Homo sapiens: one gene and its partners. The protein of the gene in region 2 purifies or fractionates together with the protein of the main gene of each other region. This does not show direct contact. Each region holds a gene or a part of one and is shown on either strand. Other genes may lie near its edges.

The links.
Region 1: the proteins of TSFM (region 2) and ATXN7L2 purify together in Homo sapiens (affinity purification with mass spectrometry; 2 studies listed by BioGRID and IntAct, with this or other methods). This does not show direct contact.
Region 3: the proteins of TSFM (region 2) and AMY1C purify together in Homo sapiens (affinity purification with mass spectrometry, with the first as the bait; 2 studies listed by BioGRID). This does not show direct contact.

Annotation. Positions count from the first base shown.
Region 1 is NC_000001.11:109,486,820-109,493,260, reverse strand, and holds the end of ATXN7L2 (ataxin-7-like protein 2), read right to left. Parts: intron 6,255-6,441; coding exon 6,044-6,254; intron 5,744-6,043; coding exon 5,457-5,743; intron 4,879-5,456; coding exon 4,796-4,878; intron 4,415-4,795; coding exon 4,161-4,414; intron 3,979-4,160; coding exon of another isoform or gene 3,921-3,978; exon of another isoform or gene 3,332-3,920; coding exon 3,133-3,331; intron 2,991-3,132; coding exon 2,869-2,990; intron 2,340-2,868; coding exon 1,544-2,339; intron 1,235-1,543; coding exon of another isoform or gene 1,193-1,234; exon of another isoform or gene 1,157-1,192; intron 676-1,156; coding exon 661-675; 3' UTR 527-660; downstream 1-526.
Region 2 is NC_000012.12:57,778,195-57,785,879, forward strand, and holds the start of TSFM (elongation factor Ts, mitochondrial isoform 2 precursor), read left to right. Parts: upstream 1-4,592; 5' UTR 4,593-4,607; coding exon 4,608-4,664; intron 4,665-4,915; coding exon 4,916-5,089; intron 5,090-7,685. Other genes in the region: EEF1AKMT3 (EEF1A lysine methyltransferase 3), read left to right, coding at 2,061-2,452. UniProt on the Homo sapiens protein: Associates with the EF-Tu.GDP complex and induces the exchange of GDP to GTP. It remains bound to the aminoacyl-tRNA.EF-Tu.GTP complex up to the GTP hydrolysis stage on the ribosome.
Region 3 is NC_000001.11:103,752,806-103,759,211, reverse strand, and holds the end of AMY1C (alpha-amylase 1C precursor), read right to left. Parts: coding exon 6,403-6,406; intron 5,664-6,402; coding exon 5,530-5,663; intron 4,714-5,529; coding exon 4,591-4,713; intron 4,498-4,590; coding exon 4,398-4,497; intron 2,418-4,397; coding exon 2,299-2,417; intron 2,189-2,298; coding exon 2,063-2,188; intron 744-2,062; coding exon 554-743; 3' UTR 520-553; downstream 1-519. UniProt on the Homo sapiens protein: Calcium-binding enzyme that initiates starch digestion in the oral cavity.

The DNA of each region.
Region 1 (6,441 bases), on a different chromosome or scaffold from region 2:
AGCTCAAGCTCCCTAAGTGGCTGAGAAAATGAGGCTGCAGGAACAGCTGAAGAAAAGCAGGCAATAATTCAGGGAGGGATGGATGCCTAGGGTTGCTGAAGGACCAGAAAAGGGTCACAAGCCAATTCCCAGACCCTCGGGGCAAGGATCCTAGAAAGAGCCAGAAGTGCAGCTCCCCCTCTCGAGTTTCTCTTCCCAATGGGACCATAGTCGTCTCTGGTGTCAAGACTCAGGAAGCCTTACTCATTCAGAGCCACACGCCTCATCATCCTGTCTGGAAAGACTACCCCAGTGACACAAACATTTTTCACACTATTGAAAATGACAAGATGACAATAATAATAATAATGAGCATAAGAGACTTTTGCAGGCAAGCTATGGGAGCTGGAGTCTGGCTGCCTATCATCTCAGCCTCCCAGGGTAGGGCTGGGGACAGTAAGGACACTCATTTTGTTATTTTTTTTCCTTCCTTTTCTATGTTTCTGTTTTTATATTTTCATAGCAGCAACAGAACAGGGAGACAGTCTTGAGGTATTTTAAAGAGCTTTTTTTCTTAAAAAAAAATAATATAAAGTTATAAAAAGCGGCAGCAGCCTGGGGCCCGGATCTGGAGGGGAGGAGGTGCTGGCGGCTCCGTTGCAGTGGGCAGGCACTTTCTCGTTAATGGGCTTTTGACTGCAGGAAGACAAGAGGCGAGAGAAAGGGTCAGGGTGGGGGCCTACCAGCTGTCCTACCCAGTGAACTGTGTGCACTACAGAGGCTAAAGCTTGATTTCCTTCTGCTGGCCTGGTGAGTAAAACTGAGCAAGGGGGAAGATGAATGCCAGCTCACCAGGGGCAGCCTGGGTAGTGAAGCTGGAGAACACACAGGGTTTATGATTAGGCCCACATCTAACCCAGGAGAGCACCCCCGTCCCACCTCCAGTAAGTCCCTCCTGGCAGAGATCATATGGAGAGCACATAGCACACTACACCAGGGCTCCCACCAGAAGAGGCAAATAAAACTGGCTGCAGGCTTTACTGGAAACCCTGGAGAACTTGCCTGTCACCTGCACACCTGGAGGTGGGCACATGTGCATAAGTGGACATGGGGTTGTGTGCCTGCCCTTCAAGGCCCTGATGCCCAGAGGAAAAACCAGTGAGACCAGCCCACCCACCTTGCTGCTCGGCATGTTAGGCTGTGACCCAGGGACTCAAACTCCCTTTCCTTCAGGGAACAGAGGTAGCTCCAGTACCTGGAATGAGGGTCACAGCCAATTCAGAAAGAAGTAGCCCTTTGATTATAGCAAAAGCAGGGGTGGAGGGGTGCCGCATCTCCTCAGCCCAAGGGAAAGGGTTAGGGATAGGGGAAGGTTCACCAGGCAAAAAGCTGGAGTCACTTTGCTAAGAACTGACCTACCTCTTCCTAAAGAAAACAGTCCAGGAACTCTCTCAACTTCCCCTTCCTCCCTTTCCCTGCACAAACACCAATGTAGCATCTTCTCTGTATCAGGTACCCCCTGTGTGCCCCACCCTCATCAATCTTCAGGGAGCCTGGCTGGTACCTTCAGTGTAGAGCACTTCTCCTCAAAGGCCAGGGCCGGGCCTGGCTTCTTGCGGCGCACAGAGCAGGCCACATCAGCAGGGGCACCAGCCTGACAGTGCTTGGCCTTCACTGGCCGGCAATAAGTGGCCAGGTTTTTCCGCTTCTTGGCCACCTCCTCCTCAGAGAGGCAGTTGGTTGGCAGGGCCTTGGCTGGGTGTCCAGCTGCTCCCCGGTTCTCCAGCTGAGAAGCCTTGACTGGTGTGGGGAGCTGATGAGGGGAGCCACGACAGTCCAGGGGCCCTGCCCGCTTCACTCTTGGCCCCATTGTCCCATTAAGCCCCATGCTCAGGGCTGTTTTAGTTTTGGCCGAGAGGCCCCTACAGCCAGAGGGTTTCCCTTTTCCAGTGGGCTCCAGGATGCAGGTCCGTTTAAGAGTGGTAGGGCCAGGGGATAACTTCCGCTTTCGAGAAGGGGCCTCCACCTCCACCCCGTCCTTGCCTTTGGATGACTTGCTGGCCTTGGAAGGCGGCAGCTTGCTGAAGGACGGGGATGGCGTGTTGGCAGGCAGTGGTGAGGTGATAGCCTGGCTCCCGCCCATGCACTCTGCCTGGCTACAGGCAGCCGCCACGCTGGGGGAGCCTGCAGGGTAGCTGGGGACAAGGTTGTCCTTGGTGGGGGGCATGGAGGCTGGGCAGGCAGGTCTCAGGGTTGGACCTGGAAGGCGGGGGCAGGTGCCTGTAGAGGATGGGCTCAGGGGAGCAGATAACGGGGAGTTGACAAGGTGAGCTGGAGGTTCAGCTGCCGGTGGGATCTTCCTGCAGCAAAAAGAAAGCCCCACTGTGACTGCCAAGAAACAAGACAGCTTCCCCCAACACAAGACACACTCCAGTCTCTCTGCCCCACCTAGAAATGGTCAGCAGAGCCCCAGAGTTGCTGCCATCTGCTGGGAGATGCTGGAACTGAGGGTTAGGAAGAAGACACAGGGGTGCCTGTGGAGAGGAATTAGCTAGTACCTACTAACTAGGAGGCAGCCCACTAGGAACTTCATTTTAAATCTTGGTTTGGGCATCCCCTATCCCTAGTTACCCAAAAGGTACTGGAAGTGATGGATGAAAGTCTAGATTCACCCCCAGACCACCCTTCCATGCCCTGCCTTAGCCAAACTCTAGGCTGCCAAGTTTTCCCACCTCCTTTTCATGCTACTCCCTATCTGGGGTCCTGCTGGCAAATAGCCAAGGCACACCTATGGGTATACAGGAAAGATCAGGGCTTCTGAAGCCCAAGTATGTCTGGAACCTAGGAATTTCCATTCTAGAACTTCCATTCTGGGTCCGAGAGACTTACTTCCACATGTGTGTGCTGAGGTGCCGTTCCAGCATGGAGCTGAGTGCTGAGCAGAACCGGTCCAGCCGGCGGCTAAACACATAGCATCCTGGGCTCACCAGCCGGCTCCCAAAGGTGCAGAACTAAAGGCAGAAGGAAGGTGCATGGTTGGCAGGGTCTGGGGTGCACAGACAGCATCTGCACACAGGATCTGGCCTCCTCCCCATGTTGTTGGCCAGGAGTGCTGGGCCACCCCCTCCATAGGCCCCTATTCCAGGTCCTTACCGCCTGTGGCCGTGGGGGCCGGGTTGCATAATGGCAGTCAGGGGGTGGGTGGAGGTCGTCAGATGTCCCCTCCTCCTCACTCTCTTCGCTGGAGGCCTGGGTCCCACCCCGGGGCATGGGGAAGGGGAACAGGCCTGGGTCCCCATCACCACCACAGGGGCCTTCATCATCCAATTCACTCTCGGAGGAGGCCCGGGACCTGGAAGGGCCAAAAGGGATGCCAGGGGAATGTGACTGTTGTGGGGTCAGAGTAGGGGCATCCTTGAACCTGCCGAGCTCAAAGAGCAGGGCACCAGGGCAGACACCCTGCAGGGCAATCAGAAGAGGACAGAGGGAAGGGAAGGACAGGAGGGAACGACACAGCTCACAGAGTAAGAGACAGAGAGACTGCTCCCAAGGGATTCTCTCCCCAGCCCCTTCACCTCCCAGCCCCTTCCTCCTCAGGGGATAATCTGCTGCAGATCCGCCTCCTCCAGAAAATCTTCACAGTTAAAACTGTACCCAGCTCTGGTCAGCCCAGTCAACTCGCTCAACCCCCTTCTTGCATCACATATTCCTGTGAGCCTGTCTGTGAGCTGAGCCTGTGTTTCGTGTCTGCCCCTTGTGTGACAGGCAGAGATGCATGTGTGTCTCCTTCAGCAAGTCAGGCTCTCCCTGGGGTCCGGCATAGCCTCTGCACGCGAAGGGGCCAGTGAGTGAATACACATAGGGCTGCCTTGCCCAGGAGTGTGACCCTTTCAGCTCCCCAGTGACAAGTTTCGGTCTGTTGGAGGCAGCTGGGAAAATGTTCATATCCTGAGTGTTGGATCTGGCACACTGCCGAGAGGCTGGGGTGCTGTGGTATGCCTGGTTGGAAACAGGGGAGTCTCCTGCTTCCACACCACTGTCAGGAGCCCCAGGAATACCCCCACACTCAGGGCTGAGGGAGTGCCTCTTCCAGGACACTCCCTGAGCCTGTTTCCAGGGGCCCCTGATGGCTTAGGGGCCAAGTACCCCCAGGTGAGGTAGGGGTTGGATTCTAGACGTACCTGGGCAGTGCACAGTATGGGTAGGTCTGCTTGGCACGAACAGAGAAGGTGCTGCTGGGAGCAGCCACCGCTGCTACAACCTGGACTGAGGAGGGGAGCTCCTGGGAGGGGCGCTCGAGAACTTGCTCCTTGCGCCCTGGGCTCTTCTCCTTGGGAGACTCCCCTTTGCGGGAGTTGGCCTTCAGCTCTGCCACCAGCACGTCAAAGTCCTTGGCCCGGCCCTGGACTTCCCGGCGCTGGTGTACTGAGTGGATCTAGAATACAGCAGAGTGGAGAGCTGGGGAGTAGGTATGAACTGAGAAGGGGTGAGGGACGGCAGGGTGCTTTGGCCCGGGCAAGTTGGGGGGCAGGGAGAGAGGTGGGCATATTTGCAGCTGTGTTCATGTGTCTTTGTTTCATTCCCCCATGGGGCCAAAACCCTCCTTTGGGATGGGGGAATCTGGAAACTCCCTCCTTCCCACTGTTCCCACCTTCTGCCCAGGAGGGGCATACCCATCTCCCCTTCCCTTGGGTGGGCCTAACTGCCCTCCCTTAAGCTGGACCTTCAGTAACATCGACATTCCTCTCTTTGCCCAGGGAAGGAGTGGGCAAGCCCTGTGCTGTCCTCCCTCACCGTGCAGTGGGAAGGGGGTTACCTTGCAGGTCAACAGGCGGGTACAGATCTTTTTGGTCTCTGGATTTATTACCCCACACTGCCTGTTGAGGTCGCACTCCTTCCCTGTGGGGAAAGCACTTCCAATGAACCTCAAGACCATTTCCAGGAGTTTACAGGAGGATTTGGCCGCTTCCTGCCAAGGGCCTGAGAACTGGTACTAAGGCAGAAGAGACTCCAGCCCTCAGCCTGGGGCTGTACCTTCCAGATAAACTTCTGGGCATCAACATCTCCTTGCTGGGTGTGAGAACCATCCCTATCCCAATTTCAGGTGCGCCTTTTGGGACTTCAAGCCCAAAGCAGGGCAACACACATCAAGAAACAAAAGCAGCCATGGGCATCTGGGAGGCCAGAGAAGCCAGCTGTGAGATGTGTCTGGCTGGCGCCCTGGATCTAGGTGAGAAAAGAGTGAGAAAGAACTTCACCTCCTGGGCATGGGCTCCCTCAGCCTTGATCAGGAGACACAGGATGGAGAGAAGCTTCCCAGGAAGCAAGCAGGTCAAGAGGTGACGGGGCTCCTATACCCTACAACCTGTGATGGCCAGGCCCATAAACCTGACCTCCTCCTCATCCAGCCCAAGGACAAAGCAGCCCAAAGGAGTCCCCACTCTACATTCTGGACCCCCAAGACCACAACTACTCACGAGCCATCTTCCGGTGGGTTTTAGGGGGCAGCCTGGTCCCACTGGGCTCCTTTTCAGGAGGGCTGCCTTCAGCCCAGTGACTGGACCCCTCACTGGGGATGATCTCGATGTTCTCTCTGCCAGGAGGTTCTTTAGAAGGGGGAGCCATGGGAGGTTTTCCAGGGGAGTCCTTGGTGAGGCCCCCTGGCTGGCTGAGAAAAGCAGAGGGTGGGGCCACCCTGATTCCATGTCCATCAGGCTTCGGGAGACTGGACATCTTCTCCAGATTCACCACAGGCACGAAAAGGCTACACACAGAGAGAGGGGGTTGGCTGAGGGAGGGGAGGGGAGGCGAGGCCTGGGGCCTGGACTCTAGCCCAGAGCCATCTCTTTCCCAGCCCTGGAATTTGGGTGGGCTCCAGCAGGGGTGTGAAACACGGGAAGAGGAGACCCCATCTTCCCTGGAATATATGGAAGGAAGCTGCAGACAGGACGGCTGCCTCCTGCTGTGAGGAGTATGCCTTGACCCAGGGCTGTCTGTATTGATGTCAGCCCATCCATGGGTCAGGGTCAGGGCCAGTCTTAGAAAGTTTCCAGCCTCTCCTTACCAGAGGTTGTCCTTCTGGGTCTTCTCAGGAGGCTGGTGGCCACGGCTCCGGGACCCCTGGCCCTTCTCCCTGGAGGAGGTTTTCGTGGAACCTGGGGCCCTACAAGCTGGGCCCTGCCCATTCACTACATGGCATTTCTGAGAGCTGGCAGGGGCTGGAGGTGGGGGTGGGGCCCGGCCATAAAGCTTGCTGAGGGGCCCATGTCTTCTTTCTGTCACCAGGAGGTGGAAAGAATAATCAAGGTGAGTGGTATCACCACTTCCTTCCCCAACCTAACCATGTCCATAGACTCACATGAGAGAATCTGAGTTTCCATAAATTAGATTGTAAACATGCCTCCTTCCCATTTGAATCTGAGCCTTTAGGACTCAAAATTCAAGACCCAGCTTCCTGAATGT
Region 2 (7,685 bases):
TCCTGTCCAAATTGCGCCTCCTGCAACCTTTCTCATCTAAATGAGTGGCAATTTGGTCTTCTAGTTGGTCAGGCCAAACACCCAGAAACCATCCTGAGCTTTTTTTTTTTTTTTGAGACAGGTTCTCACTCTGTTGCCCAGGCTGGAGTGAAAGTAGCACAATCATGGCTCACTAAAGCCCTGAACTTTCAACCTCCCGAGGCTCAAGCAATCCTCTGACCTCAGCCTCCCGAGTAGCTGGGACTACAGGATGTGCCACCACACCCAGCTAATTTTTGTATTTTTTATAGAGACGAGGTTTTGCTATGTTGCCCAGACTGGTCTCAAACTCCTGGACTCAAGCAGTCATCCCGCATTGGCCTCCCAAAGTGTAATCCAAAGGGATTACAGGCGTGAGCCACTGTGCCTGGCCCATCCCAAGCTTTTCTCTCTCTCTCATATTTTATATCCAATCTATTGGCAAATCCTGTTGACTCTACCTTCAAAATATATTCAGGATCTGACCATTTCTTAGCCATTGCTACTGCCCTGGTTTAAACCATCATCATCTCTCACCTGAGTCATTGCCATCACCTCCTAACTGGTCTCCTAGCTTCTGACCTTGCCCTCCTGTACTCTTCTCATCATAGCAGCCAGCATGCTCCTCCTAAAGCATGCCAGCGTGTGCCATTCTTTTTTTTTTGAGACAGAGTCTTGCACTTGTTGCCCAGGTCGGAGTGCAATGGCACAATCTCGGCTCATTGCAACCTTCGCCTCCCAGGTTCAAGCGATTCTCCTGCCTCAGCCTCCCTAGTAGCTGGCATTACAGGCGCCCGCCACCACACCCAGCTAATTTTTTTGTATTTTTAGTAGATATGGGGTTTCACCATTTTGGTCAGGCTGGTCTGACCACTCAATTTAAAATTTCATTCTCCAGCCACTCAATTTAAAATTACATTCAGGCTGCCAAGACTTTGTCCTCTATGCCCTGGGGTCTCTGGACCTTCCAGGTAGGAGCCGAGAACCCTTGGTTGGTCCCTCTAACTTGCATTTCTCCCCATCCCTCAAGCAATTCTTATCCCCCTTCCCTGCTTGGGGCTTCACCATGGCATATATTACCATCTGATGTACAGTGTATTTTATTTTATTTATTTTGTTTGTTGTTATCATCTGTTTCTTGCCACTGGACCATAAGCTCTGTGAGGGGGGATTCTTATCTTCTTAGTTCATCATTATGTTCTCAGCACTTGGCATATAGGCACATAATAAATATGAATGAATGAATGGATTCCTAGTACTTCTTGCTTCTCTTTCTATCATAGTCATCATGATTATGATGCAGTACCTAGTGTGTCTCTACCTCTAGAATGAAACAAAGAAAGCTGTGTTTTTGTCTTGCTCACCTTATATACCCAGCACTTAGAAGGTTCTCCAAATTATATCTACTGCATGAATGAAGGTTTCTGAGATGCTAATCTGACCATCTTCACCCGTTTCTGCCCTTAAAGCTTACTGCCCTCAGTATCGAACCTGAATCTTCTTAGCATGTCATAATCACTTTCCCTTTGTCTCATGTCTTGACACTTTTCTCCCCCTTCCACATCCTCTAAGATGCAGCCTTTCCTGAATATGCCATGCTCTTTCACTCCCAGGCCTTTGTACTCACTGTTCTCTTCTTGGAAAGCTCCACCTGACTAACTCCTACTTGTCCTTTAGGGCTCAGCTGAGGTCACATTTTCTGGGAAGCTTTCCAGACCCTTAAGGCGAGCTTGTGTCAGTGGGGGTGGGTACAGAACCCATCTCCAGCTTAGTCCTGCCCAGGCTTCTGCTGACATCTGATTGTTGTGTGTTGGCCAGAGAGGTTGAAGATTAGCTCAGAGAGAATGTTGATGTTGTAGAATGTAGAGTAATGAGAATAGCAGTGGGTGAAATGGAGGTTGAGGCAACTAAAAGCCAGTGTGGGCTCTGGGCTGTCAAGACATTGTCCTCTATGCTCTGAGGTCTCTGGACCTTCCAGGCAGGAGCCAAGAACCCTTGGTTGGTTCCTCTGACTTGCATTTTTCCTCCTTCCTCTCTCTCAGGGGGGGATGTTACCATCACTGACCTGCCCCTGGCCCTAGAACAGATCCAGGGCAACGTCCAGGCCAATGTGCCAGCTGGAGGCCAGGCCCAGGTGCGTGCCTTGTCCTGGGGGATTGACCATCATGTCTTCCCTGCAAACTATGACCTGGTGCTGGGGGCTGATATCGTGTACCTGGAACCCACCTTCCCTCTGCTGCTGGGGACCCTCCAACACCTGTGCAGGCCCCATGGCACCATCTATCTGGCCTCCAAGATGAGAAAGGAGCATGGGACAGAGAGCTTCTTTCAGCACCTCCTGCCCCAGCATTTCCAACTGGAGCTGGCTCAGCGGGATGAGGATGAAAATGTCAACATCTATAGGGCCAGGCACAGGGAACCAAGACCTGCTTGACATCACCCTTGCTGTTCTTCTCAATCTCTTGCTCTAATGAAGGAACTGTGTATCTCAAAAACCATATTTCCAGAGCCACAAACATGAGGACCAAAAAGGATGGATTTCCCTGGCCTCTCTCACTTTCCTCCTTCCCTCTTTGTTACCCCAGATACTCTTGGGCAGGTGCAGTGAGGTGCCTGCTTACAAGGAATCCCAGAGTTCTGGCAGCACTAGTGTTAGAACACCAAGGAGGTTCCTGGCTCCTGTTCTCAGAGAAGGAGGATGGTAAGGTATCCAGGATTTTTAGGGGGTAAGGGAGATATATGGGATGTGAGAGCAGTGATTGTAGACAGACTGTCACTGATCACTTCCATTCCTGTTGCTGTTTACACAGAATGGACTTTAAAAAAATTCTGTGGGATTTTTTTTTCTTTTTTTCTTTTTTTTTGAGACAGGGTCTCACTCTGTCATCCAGGCTGGAGTGCAGTGGTGTGATCACAGCTCACTGCAGCCTCAACCTCTGAAGGCCCAGATGATCTTCCTGCCTCAGCTCCCCAAGTAGCTGGGACTAGAGGCATGCGCCACCACACCCGGCTAATTTTTGTATTTTCAGTAGAGACAGGGTTTCGCCATGTTGCCCAGGGTGGTCTCAAACTCCTGGGCTCAAGTGATCCACCCGCCTTGCCTCCCAAAGTGCTGGGATTGCAGGCATGGCCCACTGTGCTAGCCTAGGATTTTTTTTTTTTTTTAAGAAAGAATTAAGCCTTAAAAATCTATTGTGCAAGAACCCAACTTTTACTCAGGAGCTGAGAAGGAAGAAGCCTCAAACCACCCATTTCCTGCTTTTTAGAGATAGAGTCTAGTGGAACCATGGCTCTAACTGGGTCAAGTCCTCCTAGCTCTGAAGCTAAGGCTGCAGAGCTGTCCTTTGGACTGTATTTCTTCATGCTTTCCAGAGTTAGAGCCTTGATCACGGAACATCATTGTGTGCAGAAGAATACTGTACCTAGTACTAAGTTCTTTTCATCTTTGATTTTTCTTTAGCTTCATCAGTCCTTCCTTCCTAATCTCTAATCCCCTGAAGCCTAACACAGTTCCTAATGTGTTTTGCCTTAACCTCTTTTCTCTTCCCACATTGGTACTTCTGGTTGGGGCTCTCTTTACTTACTGCTTAGGCACATAGTCACCTTCTCTGGACTCCCTGCTTCCATGCTTTCTCCTTCAGTCCATTCCGCAAACTCTTGTGATCTTCCAAAATTAGCTCTGATTAGCTTTCACTTCCTGTAGAAGCAAGAACAAGCTCCTCTGCTTGGTACTTAGTCTGTGTCCATGTGATCCAAAATTACCTTCCTATTGCATTTCCTACTCCTTTGCTACGTGTATTGGACCTCTGGCCAAATTACAAAAGATGTACTCTTTGTTCTCTAAAACCACACTAAAGTTTTCTGACTTCTTTCACACTCTTTATGATAATCCTCTGCCTGAAAGGCTATTGCCACCTGTCAAAATCTTCATTATTCTTTGCCTCTTTCCTGAGCCTCTTGCTTGAATGTGATTTCTTTCTCCCTGAGACCCATAAGGTTCATCTTATGGGACCTTAATTTGTCTTGCATGGACATTTGTGATTCTCATTTTCTCACCATTAAATTACCTTGGAGGGTAGGGCTGTGGTTTACTCCTGTCTAAACCCCTGAAGCCTAACACAGTTCCTGGCACACAACAGGTGTTCAACAGATATTGTGCTCATTCAATAAATATTTACTCGCTTTGTTTAATGGATTCCACCCCTGCCTTCCTAGGTGACCTTGGACAAATTCTCGAACCCATTCACCAACCACACAAGTTTGTTGTGAGTCATAAATGGATAATGAATATAAATGCGCATTGAAAATAAACATAAAATGTTACCCACATTTCTTGTGTTGTTGTTTTGTGACGACTTTATTTCTTGGTTTCTGTTATTTTACCTGGGGTGGGAGGTGGGGGGTAATTCCCGTATGAAATGTGTCGTCTCAAGAAATCAAGTAGAGGCGAGGACTGTGTTCCTCCGGCCAGCAGGTGGCACCATACTCGTTTGGTGCGTTCCGCTGGAGAATTCTGGCCCTTCCGCCGCGCCGTAGGTTTGTTGCCTCACCAGTGCGCCCGCCGGAGGGTGTTTATCGCGGCTAGAGAGATGTCGCTGCTGCGGTCGCTGCGCGTGTTTCTGGTCGCGCGGACCGGGAGCTACCCGGTGAGAAGTCCTGGTGCTGGTACCGACCTGCTGTCCCTGCAGCTCTCCTGTGCGCCTGTACCTTTCCCTTCCTCCCAACCTCGTTTGACTCCATCTCACCTTCCCCGACAGCATTGCCTCTGCCCAGTCCAGCCCCGGTGCACCCCCCTTTGCACACTGTCCGCTCCCTAAGGTCGCTTCCCTGCCCGTGTACCCTTCACCCTCTGGAGTTTGCTGCTTCCTGCTCCTCATCCCTTTCTTATCTCATCTAGGCTGGGTCTCTTCTGCGTCAGTCGCCCCAGCCAAGGCACACATTTTATGCTGGGCCCCGTCTGTCTGCCTCGGCCTCCAGCAAGGAGCTCCTCATGAAGCTGCGGCGGAAAACAGGCTACTCCTTTGTAAATTGCAAGAAAGCTCTGGAGACTTGTGGCGGGGACCTCAAACAGGTGTGTGTGTGGAGGGGTGCAGGGCGGAGTACTAGAGCTCGACCTCAGACTCTTGGGGCGGTCACGCTGGGGAGCATAAAGTTAGACTGCTCTTCAGTGACCATAATGGCACAGTCCTAAGTGGAAATCTGGCTTAAATGACAACCTTGGCCTTGACTTTGTCTTATTTGAAAGCAGTTGAGTATCCCAGGATTAACAAACCAGACTGTTACGGTGTTTCTTGTTGCCTGGAGCTGAAAGGGTTTGTGTGAGCTTTGGAGTCAGATTGTTCAGGAGTCAAATTGTGGGGCCCCCACACTGTCTGACTTTAGACTTTTTTTTTTTTTTTCAGACGGAGTCTTGCTCTGTGGCCCAGGCCGGCGTGCAATGGCACGATGTTGGCTCACTGCAACCTCCGCCTCCCGGGTTCAAGCGATTCTCCTGCCTCAGCCTCCTGAGTAGTTGGGATTACAGGCGTGCGCCACGACACCCGGCTATTTTATTTTTTATTTTTTATTTTTTTTTGTATTTTTAGTAGAGATGGGGTTTCGCCGTGTCGGCCAGGCTGGTCTCGAACTCCTGGCCTCAGGTGATCCGCCCGCCTCGGCTTCCCAGAGTGGTGGGATTACAGGAGTGAGCCACCGCGCCCGGCTGACTTTAGACATCTTAATCTTTCAGAGTTGTGTAGTTTTTGCCTGTACGGTCATGCGTCTCTTAATAGGAAGATACATTCTGAGAAATGGCGTCGTTAGGAGATTTTGGCTTATGCACATCATAGAGTACCTACACAAACCTAGATGGTATATTGTACTACAACCTGGGCTATATGGAATTGCCAGCTGCTCCTAGGCTACAAACCGTTACAAAATGTTACTGGACTGAATACTGTAGGCAGTTGTAACACAGTGGTAAGTATTGTGTATCTAAACATAGAAAAAGTACAGTAAATAGGCATAAAAGATAAAAAACGATACATCTCCATAGGGAACTTATCATGTATGGAGCTTGCAGGACTGGAAGTTGCTCTGGGTGAGTCAGTGAGTGGTGAGTGAATATGAAGGCCTGCCTTAGGACACTATGGTGCACTATAGTAGACGTTAAAGCACAGTACACATAAGCTACATTACATTTATAAGAAATTTTTTTCTGTGATAATAAGTTAACCTTAGTTTAATGTAACATTTTTATTTTATAAACTTTTAACATGTTTTAAATTTTTGGACTCTTTTGTAATAACAGCATAAAACACATATTGTACAGCTGTACCAAAATATTTTTCTTTATGCACTTTTTCTGTGAGCTTTTTTCTGTTTTTAAAATTTTAAACTTTTTTTGGCTGGGCGTGGTGGCTCATGCCTGTAATCTCAGAACTTTGGGAGGCTGAGGCAAGCGGATCACCTGAGGTTGCGAGTTCGAGACTAGCCTGACCCACACGGAGAAACCTCGTCTCTACTAAAAAAAAATAAAATTAGCCTGGTGTGGTGGCAAGGGCCTGTAATCCCAGCTACTCGGGAGGCTGAGGTAGGATAATCTCTTGAACCCAAAAGGCGGAGGTTGTGGTGAGCCGAGATCGTGCCATTGCACTCCAGCCTGGGCAATAAGAGTGAAACTCTGTCTCAAAAAAAAAAACAACAACTTTTTTTATTGAAATATCTTTTTTTTTTTTTTTTTTTTTTTTTTTTGAGACAGAGTCTTACTCTGTCCCCCAGGCTGGACTGCAGTGGCACAATCTTGGCTCACTGCAAGCTCCACCTCCCAGGTTCACACCATTCTCCTGCCTCAGCCTCCTGAGTAGCTGGGACTACAGGCGCCCGCCACCACGCCCGGCTAATTTTTTGTATTTTTAGTAGAGACAGGGTTTCACCGTGTTAGCCAGGATGGTCTCGATCTCCTGACCTTGTGATCCGCCCACCTCAGCCTCCCAAAGTGTCGGGATTACAGGCGTGAGCCACAGCGCCTGGCCAAAACTTTTTTTAAGTTAAAAAATTGTTTTGTTAAAAACGGAGACACAAACACATACATTAGCCTAGGCCTACACAGGAGTGGCATCATCATTAACACTGTGTTCCACTTTCACATCTTGTCCTGCTGGAAGGTCTTCAGGGGCAGTAACGGGCATGGACCTGTCATCTCCTATGATAACAATGTTTTTTTCTGGAATACCTCTTGAAGGACCTGCCTGAAGCTGTTTTACTGTTAAATTTTTTTATTTTTTATTTTTTTGAGACGGAGTCTCACTTTGTCACCCAGGCTGGAGTGCAGTGGCGCGATAGATCTTGGTTCACTGCAACCTCCGCCTCCCGGGTTCAAGAAATTCAGCCACCCGAGTAGTTTATAAGTTGGAGTACACTCTAAAATAACAATAAAGCATATGTATTATAGTAAATACATAAGCCAGTAACATAGTTGTTCATTATTGTTTCAAGTATCATGTACTATATGTAATTGTATGTGCTATACTTTAATAGGACTGGCAGCACAGACGTTTTCTTTACACTAGCATTGCCACAAACATGTAGGTAATATGTTGCCCTACAATGTTAGGAGGACTACCGTGTCACTAGACAATAGGAATTTTTCAGCTCCATTATAATCTTAGGGACCGTCATCATATATG
Region 3 (6,406 bases), on a different chromosome or scaffold from region 2:
TAAAGTTAAAAATTGCTAAGATTGACCATAAAAATATGTAAATAAGACAACTAAAAATAAATTTACATGCAAGGTGTGTAGGAACACTTAAATGTGTTTGTGGTAAAAGATTATAAAAAGGCATAAAAATGTAAATGTTGCCTATGGAAAAAGGATTCTTTTGAAACCTATGTAAGGGTAAAATTTGGCTTTCCTTCCCTTGTACAGATTTTTCATGTAATAGAGAAGAATAATGAAATATTTGGTTTGCCTTGTTGGTAGAATGCCAAGGAGAGAAAAGAGTAGACAGGAGACAAACTGTTTGGAAAGCTAAGTCTTACCTCTTAATGAGTAAAGATTGTTGCCTAGTTTTAAAATTTTTGAGTCATCCTTTTGCCAAAATAAATAACTTATGTGTAACCTGGAATTGTATTTCATACTATCAAGTGTCTTAAACCTCTTTTTACTAATTAGAGCTTTTATTTAAAATTAATGATATGTAACTATTACTGTATATGTAAGAAAAGAAACACACTTAGCTATTGCTTTGCGGATTTGCATTTAATTTTAAATTTTACAATTTAGATTCAGCATGAATTGCAATAAATGGATCTTCAGCAGAGTTACTAATAGAAAAATGAGCTTTGCCATCATCAGAAACGTAGATTTTAATGCCTGTGCAGTTGCCATTAATTTTATCTCCAGAAATGACATCACAGTATGTGCCAGCAGGAAGACCAGTTTGCAAAGTTAAAGAAAATGTCCTGTAAAATAAAATTTCAGATTTAACTTCAAAACAATGAAATCAAGAATACAGACTAACACAAATAAACAGCATAACTTTATGTTTTAGAACCCTAAGCAGTGAAGTCTCATTAAGAAGAAAACCCATATGCCTCCCTAGTAGGTGTAAACAGCTTTCTAGGACCAAAAGTAACCTTACAGAAAACCTACCAATTTCCTTTTCAGTAGTGAAAATATAACCGAAAAATCAAAGTTGAAGAATATCACCGAAGATTGGCGGGAGCGGTCACATTTTGATAAAGTGCTACCTTGGTAAAATCAAATTTTTTCTCAACTGAACTTAATGCCAATTACTTTAAAAATTTAAAGGGTATTATTTTTTTAACCTTCTTTTATTCTACATGAGGTCAAAAAGAATTTAGGGTGTACATAAAAACAATCTAGCATTTGTATGAGGAAGTGATAGTTTGAAATATAAAGCTTTTTCACAAAAGATTTTTTTGGTATTTTCATCCACAAAAGAAGGAAACTAAGGAAATAGACACGCATTTTTTTGGCAGGAAAGAGATCAACTTGACTTATATATTTTTGTATTTATTTATTTTTCATAAGTGAAGTATAATTTATACTAGAGTGAGCTAAGTATGAGTGTCAGTTGGCCTTGGACAGAGACAATTCAACTGTTTGCAAGGAGGTCTTCTCAGCTACAGTTTCGGGAATCATTTATACTACAGCCAAAGGATACAAAAATCACAGATGAAAGGCCAATAATGAGAAGTTTCAGAACTAAAACTCAAGTCTCCTGAAGCAAATCATTAACCACAAGATACATATTATTTATCCATATGCTTTAAAAATGTTATTTGTCACAAGGAGACAGAGAAGTGAAGAAAGTATACCAAAAAACTAGGTAGAGCTGTCATTGAGAAAAAGAGAAATAAAGATATTTTAGTACTGAGGCAGCATTTTTCCATGATTAAAAGAGCAGGACTATAAGAAACGTTCTTTTAATGATTTCACAATCCTTCTATTAATTACTTTGTGTATTTTGTGGCATGTGTAGGTAAGCATATGAATGTGCATTCTATATATGCATAAGATATTGCAAGGGTGCACAGAAAGGATTCTGCTTACAACAGAAAGCCCTTATGAAAACAGGAGAACGAAGGAGTAACAGCCATCATCCTTTTGCTTCTACCCAATTTTGATCTCTATTGTCTTCTCGCTCCACTGACTACATGATTTTTCAGATATGATAAATGTCAATGAACAGAAAAAAAAAAGAATAAACCAAGAACATACTGGTACAAAATATTATTTTTAATTGATATTTACTTACCAGTCATCATTGTTGAAAACAATGAATCCTCTGTTTCCTCTCCCAAAAGCCACTTGGTTGCTCCCATTATCATACCAGTTTGTAAAAGGCTGGCCATCCACTACATTGCGGAAATTAACCATGTTCCTAAAAACACAATACCATATAAAACGTTGATATTCTTAAACTTCAACTGTTTTAAATAAAGTGCTACGGAAATTTACTATTAGAGGACATGTCTAAATACATATTCTCACCTTATTTGGCGCCATCGATGTTCACAGACCCAGTCATTGCCACAAGTAGTGTCTGGATTAATAGTAACTTCTTTAGTTACTCCATTATCATTTGGTGGCCCAACCCAATCATTAACATCCTTAATTACAGGAGGAAAAGCCAAATTTTAGCATATATATATTTATCTCTTCCTTCTCCTTTAAACCAAACCCAACCTATCCTGTTACTTGTGTCTCTGCATTCAGTGACTTTATCTAGAATCCAATGCCTTCATTGATTTTTATAGCCCTTTACTGGGTCTTCATCATCTCTCTATCCTCTGGTTCTCTTTTGCCATATTTCAAACAAAGGTAGCAAATTGTTATCCTCTCCTTTTCATTCCAAGGCACTGCAAAGACTTCTTTGCTCTGTCACCCAGGCTGGAGTACAGTGGCATGATCGTAGCTCACTGCAGCCTTGATCTCCGAGGCTCAAGCGAACCTCCCATCTCAGCCTCCCAAGTAGCTAAGACTGTTGGTGTGCACCACCGCACCCAGCTAATTTTTTTTTTTTTTTTAATTTTCAGTAGAGGCAAGGTCTTGCTAGCTTGCCCAGATAGGTCTTGAACTCCTCAGGTCAGCTGACCTTCTCAGCTGGCCGCACACAGTGCTGGGATTATAGGTGTGAGCCACTGCACCTGGCCTGCAAGGGCTTCTTAACATCACTGTAAGCCATGCAATGGCATTGAAATGGGAAGGGCATTAGTACTAGAAACACCAGGATTAAAACATAGGCTCTATTACTAGTAGCTGAGAAAATTTAATCAATATAAATAATTTCTCTGTGTCTCAGTTTCCTCATTTGTAAAATGAGAATAATGAGTTCTTTTGCTATAAAAATTAAGTAATATATGTGAAAATGCCTTGAACATGACATATGCTAAATAAATATTGGAGGCCGTCATGCTTCTTTTTAGATAAATGTACAAAATACTACATCTGAACATTTTTTTTTATAAATTGACCATATTTTTAGTATTATGCTTTTCTGATTGGCACTTTAAGAAATCTTCATTAAAAAACACAGAGTAACCCTAGGAAGTTTATCAGTGTTCACCTTAAAATCACGTCATATGGTGAAAAGTGAACAAAACTTAAGAGTTTATAGCATGCAGCAGTCCTGTCAAAGTGGGAATGTTATAGTAATAGAAAAAATAAAAGAACTCTCTGACTCCTAACAACAGAAATAAGACCAATTAGTAGAAATTATAAGAAGTTGTCTCAATATAAAAGTACACCTTCTAAATATTAAAGCTGTTTAACAATAGAATCAGTTGTTATACATAGTAGCGGACTTCTCAAACTGAAAGGAATCTAAAAAAAGCTAGCTAGATATCTGTGTGACTCATAGGAAGGAGGAATTTCTGCTTTAGTTCTGAAGTCTCTGATGCTGTTTCTCAACCCTTTAGTTTAAAAGAAAACCTTCTACTAGCTTTCCAAATATCTTTACACTCTTATTTCTCTGTTCCTTTTTGAAACTACTCAGCAGAGTGATGTCTTTACCATACTCCCAAATATTTTTCTCATTCTTACCTTTCTTGGAATACTCTCTATAAATTTCTATCCTTTAGTACATACAATTTCCTTCCTCTTATAGTATACTTTCCCTATTTAACTCAGCTGAACTGGATCATTTGTTTCTATACCATATAACTTTTTAACAGTATTTAAAAGACATTTATATTGTTCTCACTACGGGCAGATGATGTTTTAAGTTCTCTACAAGGGTTGGCATCTATATTCTTCCAATTAAACCTGAGGAAGGTACGAAGTATATATTTTAATCCCTGTGCCTAGCTCTTATTTTTAAGTGGTTTTTTTAATTTTTATTTTTATTTTCCCTGCGGGCTAGGGGGATGTTTGTCATATCTCTGAAAAAGCTTGCTATTCTTTTTCAATGGAGAATATAAAGTTTATTCCTTTAATATAACCTGCATTACTAAATCACAACCCTGTATCAGGTTTACAATAATTAAATATTTGTTGAATAAATAAACACTTAATAGTTGTCATATTAAATTAGGAGAAGATTGCCTCTTTTTTCTTGAGAAAAGGATATTTTGAACAACTCCAAAACTTACTTTTCCATTTTCAAAATATCTTGGCCAACGGTAGCTTGACATTACTCGTGTAAATCCATAAGGATGAGCAAGCATAAATCCAACTGCCATTTTGTACAGCCTGAAAGTTACATAATTATATTATCATAGAATATCACAATATTCATACCATCATTAAAAGAGGTGTTAAAAAATAGAGAACTTGGTTTTCTACCTAGCATCCCAGAAGGTAAGTATAGAGGCTCCTCCAGCGCCATGTCCTCGTTGATTGTCATGGTTATCCACAAAGACAAGCGCTCTGTCAGAAGGCATGAAACCCCAACCTTCTCCCCAGTTCCTATTTTTGAAACATAAGATATACGTTGATGTATCATTTCACAATAGTTTGAGAGTAACTCTACTGTGCATCTCTTTCTGTAAGGCATGGCATCTGAAGATTAAATTCTTTCTCTAATTAGATGGTTACTCTGTAAGATATATATATATACACACACACACACAAACACACACTCACATATATATACACACACACCTCATAAACAAACACACGTGTGTAATCTACATATATATAGTCCATATTTGTATATACATGTATGGAATACTTATATTCATATTACAAATATAAAATGTTTGTTATTAAAAAATTTCCTTTCAGAGGTTTCAGCACATTATCATTTAGAGGCACTCCAGAAGGATCAATATCCACATCACATTATACAGAATGTCAAACTAGATTAAAATAAGGCTTTAATATTGTATTGTTATAATATAAATCATTTTACATTTCCAATTCGTATAAGTAAATACAATAGCATGGACACTTTGTACATACTTTATAAATGATAGGATCATTTTAATAATAACCTGGCTTTAAAAGATTATATGCAAACATCAGTCAAATCCAGTATATTCATCTTGTACGCAGACAGAAACTCCTAGGGTAAGTTTAGCGTTCCTAGGCATACTGTCTTGTGACAGACACTCTAAATACAAAAGATGATTGATTAGAGTTTAGGGCACTAGAATACTTATCATTAACAACTGACTCCTTAATAGTTGTCTGAATAAGAATGTTCCAGAAGATAACTCGCACTGGGGTAGTATGACTAACAGATCTATGAAATAGTTCAGGGGAAAAGTTGTATTTATTTACTTTAAGTAAGACATCTTCTCTCCATTCCACTTGCGAATAACTGTGCCGAGTTTTGCACCATACTTGAATTCTGTCACCCGGCCATTACCAAAGTAGTCACTGCTTTTAATTGGCTCACCACCCAGATCAATTACCTAGAAGAAATTTAGGAAAAAAAAACATTTTGCATAAGGACTTTAAAGCATTTTAACCGATAAGTTTATATTATATAAAAATTAGCTTTCAGCTATTTCTGAGTTATTTTAGACTTGTTGTGCTTTGTTCTTTAGAGACAGGGTCTTGCTATATCGTCCAGGATGGTCCCAAACTCCAGGCCTCAAGGAATTCTCCTGCCTCAGCCTCCCAAAGTGCTGAGTTACATGCAAGAGCCACCACGCCTGGTCCTATTTGTTATATGAAACGCTCAAAATCGTTTTCTTATTCTTATTATCTTCATCGGTAATATTCTTATATTCTTTTTTTGATAAAGTATACACTACAATATTGAAAGAAACATAATGTCAAAGTTACCTGTTGTCCTGTGAGAATACTTACCTAATTTTTAGTCTTGTACATCAATGATAATAATAACAGCTCACAGGAATACGATATTTACTATCTGACTGACTTTTTTTGATAAATATTAACTCATTTCATTTTCCAAAGAAAATAAAGACATAACTATTATCAGTATCCTACATTCTGTGTACCTCCATAAAACCTGTTGTGATAAAGAATTAGATATGCTGTATGTGAAGAAGAGGAGGTTAAAGAACACTGTTTTAAGGAAATGACTCAGTCTTTATCCTACAGAAATTGCATTTTTAATTGAATCTGCCGTGAATTTTCTAATGAATAGGATGATATTTTATATGCCTATATGTATTGACGTACCTCC